Regions from separate parts of the Homo sapiens genome. Here region 1 is reported to be linked to region 2. The links are microRNA targets in miRTarBase. Many come from high-throughput screens and were not tested one by one. Region 2 holds a microRNA gene; the other region holds the end of a gene's coding sequence.

What was found. The annotated mature microRNA hsa-miR-517a-3p reads AUCGUGCAUCCCUUUAGAGUGU and lies in region 2 at 3,225-3,246, shown strand. An mRNA with a match to its seed (bases 2 to 7 or 8) in the 3' UTR can be bound and repressed. Matches are read on the target gene's strand: a 7mer-m8 pairs with bases 2 to 8, a 7mer-A1 pairs with bases 2 to 7 and ends in A, and an 8mer does both.
Region 1: the mRNA of TNIP1 is a reported target of hsa-miR-517a-3p. Seed matches in the 3' UTR shown: 8mer at 2,498-2,505.

What each region holds. Positions count from the first base shown.
Region 1 is chr5:151,027,481-151,031,480 of GRCh38, forward strand. TNIP1 (TNFAIP3 interacting protein 1) reads right to left here. Exons shown (of 18, transcript NM_006058.5): 18 at 2,465-3,267. The coding sequence ends at 3,233. GPX3 (glutathione peroxidase 3) reads left to right here. Exons shown (of 5, transcript NM_002084.5): 4 at 1-51; 5 at 429-1,508. The coding sequence ends at 650. Among named protein-coding and RNA genes, the nearest start is that of GPX3, 8.9 kb to the left of the region's middle.
Region 2 is chr19:53,717,894-53,722,414 of GRCh38, forward strand. It overlaps MIR517B (microRNA 517b), which reads left to right and starts at 3,183; the gene lies at 3,183-3,249. MIR520D (microRNA 520d) reads left to right here and starts at 2,203; the gene lies at 2,203-2,289. It overlaps MIR520G (microRNA 520g), which reads left to right and starts at 4,273; the gene lies at 4,273-4,362. It also overlaps the pseudogene RNU6-803P.

The DNA of each region.
Region 1 (4,000 bases), not on the chromosome of region 2:
AAAGGGGATGTCAATGGAGAGAAAGAGCAGAAATTCTACACTTTCCTAAAGGTAAGTGAGCTGCCACCTGTGCTGGCTGGGGCTGCAGCCCCTCCTGGCTCCAGCCCACAGCGTCAGGGCCCATGCCACCTCCCCTGCTCCTGGGCTCTTGGGGAATTTCTTGGCACCTGACTATTGTTCCAACTAGAGGGCTCTGCAGACCCTGACTAGGGTCTCATTGGCCCATTTTACAGAAAGGCCCAGAAGGACCCAGAGTGAACATACTAAGGGTCTCACAATCTTCTAGAGCCACAGCTGGCGCTGGCAGTCTTCTAACTCCCAAACTGGGGCTCTTTTCTCAGGGCCAGGCTATTCCCCAGGAAGGCCTGGGAAGGAAGAGGGTCAGGGGGCCTCAAGCAAGGTTGACACTCCTCTTATCCCTGCTCTAGAACTCCTGTCCTCCCACCTCGGAGCTCCTGGGTACATCTGACCGCCTCTTCTGGGAACCCATGAAGGTTCACGACATCCGCTGGAACTTTGAGAAGTTCCTGGTGGGGCCAGATGGTATACCCATCATGCGCTGGCACCACCGGACCACGGTCAGCAACGTCAAGATGGACATCCTGTCCTACATGAGGCGGCAGGCAGCCCTGGGGGTCAAGAGGAAGTAACTGAAGGCCGTCTCATCCCATGTCCACCATGTAGGGGAGGGACTTTGTTCAGGAAGAAATCCGTGTCTCCAACCACACTATCTACCCATCACAGACCCCTTTCCTATCACTCAAGGCCCCAGCCTGGCACAAATGGATGCATACAGTTCTGTGTACTGCCAGGCATGTGGGTGTGGGTGCATGTGGGTGTTTACACACATGCCTACAGGTATGCGTGATTGTGTGTGTGTGCATGGGTGTACAGCCACGTGTCTACCTATGTGTCTTTCTGGGAATGTGTACCATCTGTGTGCCTGCAGCTGTGTAGTGCTGGACAGTGACAACCCTTTCTCTCCAGTTCTCCACTCCAATGATAATAGTTCACTTACACCTAAACCCAAAGGAAAAACCAGCTCTAGGTCCAATTGTTCTGCTCTAACTGATACCTCAACCTTGGGGCCAGCATCTCCCACTGCCTCCAAATATTAGTAACTATGACTGACGTCCCCAGAAGTTTCTGGGTCTACCACACTCCCCAACCCCCCACTCCTACTTCCTGAAGGGCCCTCCCAAGGCTACATCCCCACCCCACAGTTCTCCCTGAGAGAGATCAACCTCCCTGAGATCAACCAAGGCAGATGTGACAGCAAGGGCCACGGACCCCATGGCAGGGGTGGCGTCTTCATGAGGGAGGGGCCCAAAGCCCTTGTGGGCGGACCTCCCCTGAGCCTGTCTGAGGGGCCAGCCCTTAGTGCATTCAGGCTAAGGCCCCTGGGCAGGGATGCCACCCCTGCTCCTTCGGAGGACGTGCCCTCACCCCTCACTGGTCCACTGGCTTGAGACTCACCCCGTCTGCCCAGTAAAAGCCTTTCTGCAGCAGCTGAGCCTACTGTGTGTGGTGCTTCTTCAATGGTGGCCGCCCCCGCCTGGGTGGGAAGTGAGGAGGAGAAGGTGGGGCAGGGTAAAGGGGGGAGGATGAGAAAAGAACAAATATGACAACAAAAACTTTTTACAGTGGGTGCAAAGGTAATTGCGGTTTTCGCCATATGGCAAAATCCAAGGCTACCTCCCCACCCCACAATTCTCCCTGAGATCAGCCAAGGCAGACTGCAAGGGCCATGTAGCCCTATTAGGGGTGGCATCTTCATGAGGGAGGCCCCCCTGCCACAAAAAAGGGGCAAAAATTGCAATTACTTTTTCAACAACCTGATAGTTAGCTGCAGTGGCGCACTCCTTCAGCTACTTGGGAGACTGATGTGGGAGGCTCCCTTGAGCCCGGGAGTTTGAGGCTATAGTGTGCCGTGACTGAGTCTGTGAAGAGCCACTGCACTCCAGCCTGGGCAACACAGTCAGACTGTCTCTTAAAAAAAAAAAAAAAAAAAGAGAGAAATTAGACAATGCTTTGAGTCCCTGCTTTTTGGCTCCTACCTTGGCCCACTCTGCTTCTCTCACTCAGCATTTGGAGTTTATAAAACCAGTTCTGATCTACTCTCATTCCCTCCCACAGTTCTCCAAGTCAGCTGAGGTTAAGATGAGGTGTTCTGTTTGACGGATGAGGAAACTGAGGCTCACAGAAGGGCCACGCCTTGCCCCAGGTCTCCTGATGAGTGAGGGGCAGGACTGGAATTTAAACCCAAGTCCCCTGAGTCCTGGCCTAGGCTCCTTCCACTGCCCCGGTTGCCCTACCCTCAGGGAGGCCCTGATACGTCACCATTACTCAAGAGTAATGGTGACCATCTCAGGGAAAGGAAGAAAAGGGGAACAGAAGGAGGGACCCAGGAAAGCAGGGGGTTGACAGGGGAACATTAGCGCATAAATGAACATGAGTCAGAATGTTGATCTTCTTCAACTTGGATTTATGTCCATGATTCGTGCAAATAGCTATCCAGGGATGGACAGCCACCCTAATCTGGGCTTCTGGCACCACAGGCCTCCAGCTATGGGGTCCAGGGTCTGAACCTCAGGGCCTGGCAGCTTCAGGCTGGCGCCCCTCGGCGGACGTGGCTGGCATGGCCTTCTCCCATCTGTGATGGCTTCAGCAAGGCTACTGTGAGTGGTGGTGGAGAGGGCCCCAGAGCCAGAATATCCATCATTCTCTTCTGTTCTGGAGACAAACCCACACTTCCCACAGCTCCTCACAGAGGGGTAGGGGTGTGCGTGGGGCAGGTCCTGCTACAGAGCTTGAAGCAAAAATTAAACACACACACAAATTGGTCATGGCAACTAGAGGGCCTGAAACCACTTCCGGGAGGTTTTGAAGGAAGGGGGTCTTGGCTGCCTCCCACTCTTAGGATTGCTGCTCCTGGAGGCTTCTGCAACGGATGGTGGGTCAAAGCCGGATGAGGCCTCTCTCCACTCAGCAGCAGGGAAGGAGTTTTTCCCAGTCACTCCCAGCAGAGTACAAATGAAAGCCTTCTGGGTGGAGCCTCCCCAGTCCTGTAAACAGCTCAGTTCAGGGACTGGTGTACAAGCTGGCCACCCATCTCAGCCTCTCATCCAGCTGAGGCTCTGGCCACACCGTGCAAGTGGCTTCTAGTTTCTTGGCAATCTGAGATCAGCTGGCTCTGCAAGATGAAGGTGGAGCCAAATGACACAATCTGGTCTCACTGAGGCCCCTCACGGTCATTTTTTGGAGACTCTAAATAAACAAAAATTTTGAGGACTTCATGATTATGTGGTAGAGCGAGTTTCAAAGTCTCTTATGGAATGCAGTGCAGGAACAGTGAAAATAACAGCTAGGGTTACTGGGTGCTACCAAGTGCCAGGGCTAAGTACCTTAAGTACGCTGGTCATGTAATCTTCACCCAGCCCTATGAAGAAGGCAGGTTATTATCCCATTGTAAAAGAGGGAACTGGGACACTAAGAGGTTTTAAATGACTTGCTCATAGTTCCAGGTCCAGGAAATAGTGGGGCTAGGATTTGAACCCAATCTCAAATCCTGGAGCAGTTCTGGGGAGGGAGCCCCTCCCATTATACCAATCTCTACCACTCATCAAAGCAGCCTCCAAGGGGCTCCACTGAACTTGTAGGGTTCTTCAGGGAAAAACAGAAAATGACTGAGCAGCCCAATCCCTTCTTCCAATCACCAAATCCTCCAAACTGCAACCCCTCCAAGGTGTCCGTCCCATGGCCTCTACTCACACACCTGCAAAGGGACACTCGCCACCTCCCAGAGCTGGCTCCATTTCTGCACAACTGTGTCCCTTAGAAAGAAAGTTCCTCTTCATGTTGCGATGGACTTGGCCTCCCTGTCATTCCCACCCACTAGTTATAATTCTGTTCCCAGAAGTCCCACAGGCGAGGTGGTGCCTTGTGCCCCATGAGAGCTCTACAGGGAGCAATGGCAGTCGCTAAGGTCCCAATCTTTTCA
Region 2 (4,521 bases):
ATGGGCTTAGGTCCTTTTGCCTCCACCTCTCCCCAGTCCTTAGTAGCTGGGACTACATGTGAATATTAACCATGCACAGGCAAGAGGAAAGAAAGGACCGTTCTTTGGTTCACACCTAGCCGCCAGTCAAATTAGTATTTTAGATGAAGACTGCATTTGAGACATACTTGAACAACAAATGATTTGCTGTTTAGGTGTGGGCATCTTTCTTTTTTCCTAGTTTTAATAATGGCACCAGGCAGAGTACAGTGGCCCACGCCTGTAATTCCAGCACTTTGGGAGGCTGAGACAGGAGGATCACCTGAGGTCGGGAATTTGATTCCAGCCTGGCCAACATGGTGCAGCCCCATCTCTACTAAAAATACAAAATTAGCCCAGCATGGTGGTGGTATATGCTTGTAATCCCAGCTACTCTGGAGGCTGAGGCAGGAGAGTCGCTTGAAGCTGGAAGGCTGATCTTTCAATGAGCTGAGATCACGCCACTGCACTCAAGCCTCGGCAAAAAGAGTGAGACTCCATCTCAAAAACATAAAAAATAGGCCAGACACGGTGGTCCACTCCTGTAATCCCAGCACTTTGAGAGGCCAGGACAGGCGGATCTCCTCAGGTCAGGAGTCCAAGACTAGCTGGGCAAACAAGGCAAAACCTCGTCTATACTAAAATTAGGAAAAATGGCTGGGAACAGTGGTGGACACCTGTAATCTCAGCTACTTGGGAGGCCACGGCAAGAGAATCTCTTGAACCTGGGAAAAGGAGATTGCAGTGAGACGAAATCACACCATTGTACTCCATCCTGGGTGACAGAGTGAGATTCTGTTTCAAAAATTAAATAAATAGGCCGAGCACAGTGACTCATGCCTGTAATCCCAGAACTTTGGGAGGCCGAGGTGGCGGATCACCTGAGGTCGGGAGTTCAAGACCAGCCTAACCAACACGTAGAAACCCCATCTCTACTAAAAATACAAAATTAGCCGGGCATGGTGGCGCATGCCTGTAATCCCAGCTGCTCGGGAGGTTGAGGCAAGAGAATCACTTGAACCCCAGGGGGCGGAGGTTGTGGTGAGCCGAGATTGTGCCATTGTATTCCAGCCTGGGCAACGAGTGAAACTCTGTCTCTAAATAAATAAATAAAACTATTAAATAAACATTAAACGTTAAAAAATAAAAATAGATAAATATGAGATCATCATGAATTTGAGTGTCACCTTTGCGCAGGGCCCATGGTAATCTTTGTCATTCCAATTTTTTCATGCGTGCTGCCAAAGCTAGCACTTGTGTGTAGGAAGTATTCTTCCTGTGAGCATACAATATATGGAAGTTTCTTTTATTATTATTATTTTTTATGTTTTTGCGACTGAGTTTTGCTCTTGTCGCATAGGCTGAAGTGCAATGGTGTGATCTGGGCTCCCTGCGATGTCCACCTCTTGGGTTAAAGCGACTCTCCTACCTCAGCCTCCTGAGTAGCTGGGATTACAGGCATACACTTCCAGGGCTAGCTAATTTGTTGTATTTTAGTAGACGGGATTTCTCCATGTTGGTCAGGCTGGTCTCAAACTCCCGACTTCAGGTGATCTGCCCACCTTGGCTTTCCAAAGTACTGGGATTGCAGACAGCCACCGCGGCTGGCCTTCATATATTCTTATATATATAATATCATGTACACACAAAAGACTCTTTTACACCCTGAGAATACTCTTATATCACTTTGGGCATTTTTTTGTTGGTGTGTGCATTTTTTGTTTGTTCGTTCGTTTGTTTTTGAGACAAGATCTGGCCCTGTCACCTATGCTGGAGTGCAGTGGTGTGATCTCGGCTCCCGGCAACCTCAACCTCCCACCTCAGCCTCCTGAATTAGTGTCTACAGGCATGCACCTCTATACCTGGCTAACTTTTGTATTTTTACAGATGAGGTTTTACCATGTTTCCCAGGCTGGTGTCTAACTCCTGAGAATATAAGGTATATGTAGTAGGCGTTGCTTTTTCTCTTTGAAGACAAAACCCAGGACAGTTGTCCCTCGATGAACAAGGCTAACCTGCTGAACGTTTGAAGCAAGGAACTGGAGATGGTCTTTGTATCGGTTTATGTTCTAGATTCCAGAAAATATGCAAACAGGACCAATAAATGCATCTTTATTTTTGTGTCCATTTTGACCAGGTCAAGGAAAATTTCAACAAGAAACCCAGAGTGCCGGAGCAAGAAGATCTCAAGCTGTGAGTCTACAAAGGGAAGCCCTTTCTGTTGTCTAAAAGAAAAGAAAGTGCTTCTCTTTGGTGGGTTACGGTTTGAGAAAAGCAACGTTGAAGTTGATGCTGATTTCGGTAATACATTTGCAGAGCATGCTTATCACACTTGGACGATGGTGGGGTTCTGTTTTGGTTTTGCTTTTTTATTCTAAGGCTCTGTGTTGCTCATGCTGGAGTGCAGTGACATGTCCAATATATCTCTTGGCTTCAAATGGTCAGCCTGGGCAACACAGGGAAATTCTGTCTCAAAAAATAAACAAATGAATAAAAATACAAAATAAAGCCGGGCATGGTGGCTCATGCCTGTAATCCCAGCACTTTGGGAGGCCGATGCAGGTAGATCATCTCAGGTCAGGAGTTTGAGACCAGTCTGACCAACGTGGTGAAAATCCGTCTCTACTAAAAATACAATAACAACAAAAATTAGCCCAGTGTGGTGGTGGGCACCTGTAATCCCAGCTACTTAGGAGGCTGAGGCAGGAGAATTGCTTGAACCCGGGAGGCAGAGGCTGCAGTGAGCCGAGATTGTGCCACAGCATCCAGCCAGGATGACAGAGTGAGATTCCGTCTGAAAAAAAAAAAAAAAAAAAAAAGCTGGGCGCTGTGGCTCACGCCTGTAATCCCACCACTTTGAAAGGCCGAGGCGGGTGGATCACGAGGTCAGGAGATCGAGACCATCCTGGCTAACACGGTGAAACCCCATCTCTATTTAAAAATACAAAAAATTAGCGAGGCGTGGTGGTGGGTGCCTGTAGTCCCAGCTACCCGGGAGGCTAAGGCTTGAGAATGGCTTGAACCCAGGAGGCGGAGCTTGCAGTGAGCCGAGATCGTGCCATTGCACTCTAGCCTCGGCAACAGAGCAAGACTCCGTCAAAAAGAAACAAAAACAAAAACAAAAAAAAGAACCCTACAGTACTGGAGCAAGAAGACCTCATGCTGTGACCCTCTAGATGGAAGCACTGTCTGTTGTCTAAGAAAAGATCGTGCATCCCTTTAGAGTGTTACTGTTTGAGAAAAGCAACGTTGAAGATGCTGCTGATCTTGGTAATACATTTGCAGAGCGTGCTTATCATCAGACTTGCATGATGTTGGGGTTCTCTTTGGTTTGTTTTTTTCCAAGACAGGTTCCCTGTTGCCCAGGCGGGAGTGGGTGGCACCTCCAACCGAGATCTCTTGGGCTCAAGTGGTGATCTTTTTATTTTTGATTTTTTGAGATGCGCTCTCATTCCGTTTCCCAGGCTGGAGTGCAGCGGCAGGATCCCTGTTGACCGGAAACTCCGCCTCCCAGCTTCCGGCGATTCTCCCACCTCAGCCTGCCGAATAGTTGGGAATAGAGATGCCCGCCATCGTGTCCTGCTAGTTATTATTTTTATTGTTGTTGTTGTTGTTGAGATGGAGTTTCACTCTTGATGTCCAGGCTGGAGTGCAGTGTTGCAATTTAGGCTCACTGCAACCTCCACCTCCTGGGTTCAAGCGATTCTCCTGCCGCAGCCTCCTGGGTAGCTGGGATTACAGGTGCCTACTGCCCCACCCAGCTAATTTTTGTGTTTTGAATAGAGACTGGGTTTCACCATGTTGGGCAGGCTGGTCTCAAACTCCCGACCTCAGGTGATCCACCAGCCTTGGCCTCCTAAAGTGCTGGGATTACAGGCGTGAGCCACCGCCCCTAATCTCACGTGGTCCTCTAGAGTCAGCCTAGACTCTGGTCTATCCTGGAGGATGTTTGTGTGTGAGACAATGTATATTCTTCAACATCAGCCCAATTCTCTTAGCTAAATGTAAGGTATGAGTAGTAGGTATTCCTTTTTCTCTTTGGGGACAAAACTCAGGACGATCGCCCCTTGATGAACAAGGCTAACCTGCTGAGCCTTTGAAGCAAGGAATTGGAGATGGTCCTTTCAGGGGTTTATGTTCTGGATTCCATAAAACATGTAAACAGGGCCAATAAATGCATTTTTATTTTTGTATCCGTTTTAACCTGGTCAAGGAAAATTCCAACAAGAAACCCAGAGTGCTGGAGCAAGAAGATCCCATGCTGTGACCCTCTAGAGGAAGCACTTTCTGTTTGTTGTCTGAGAAAAAACAAAGTGCTTCCCTTTAGAGTGTTACCGTTTGGGAAAAGCAGTGTTGAAGTTGATGCTGATGTTGGTAATATATTTGCATGCTTATTATCAGACTTGGATGATGTTGGGGTTCTGTTTTGTTTTTGTTTTCTAAGACAGGGTCTCTGTGGCCCAGGCTGGAGTACAGAGGCACTTCCAACCTAGGTCTCTTGGG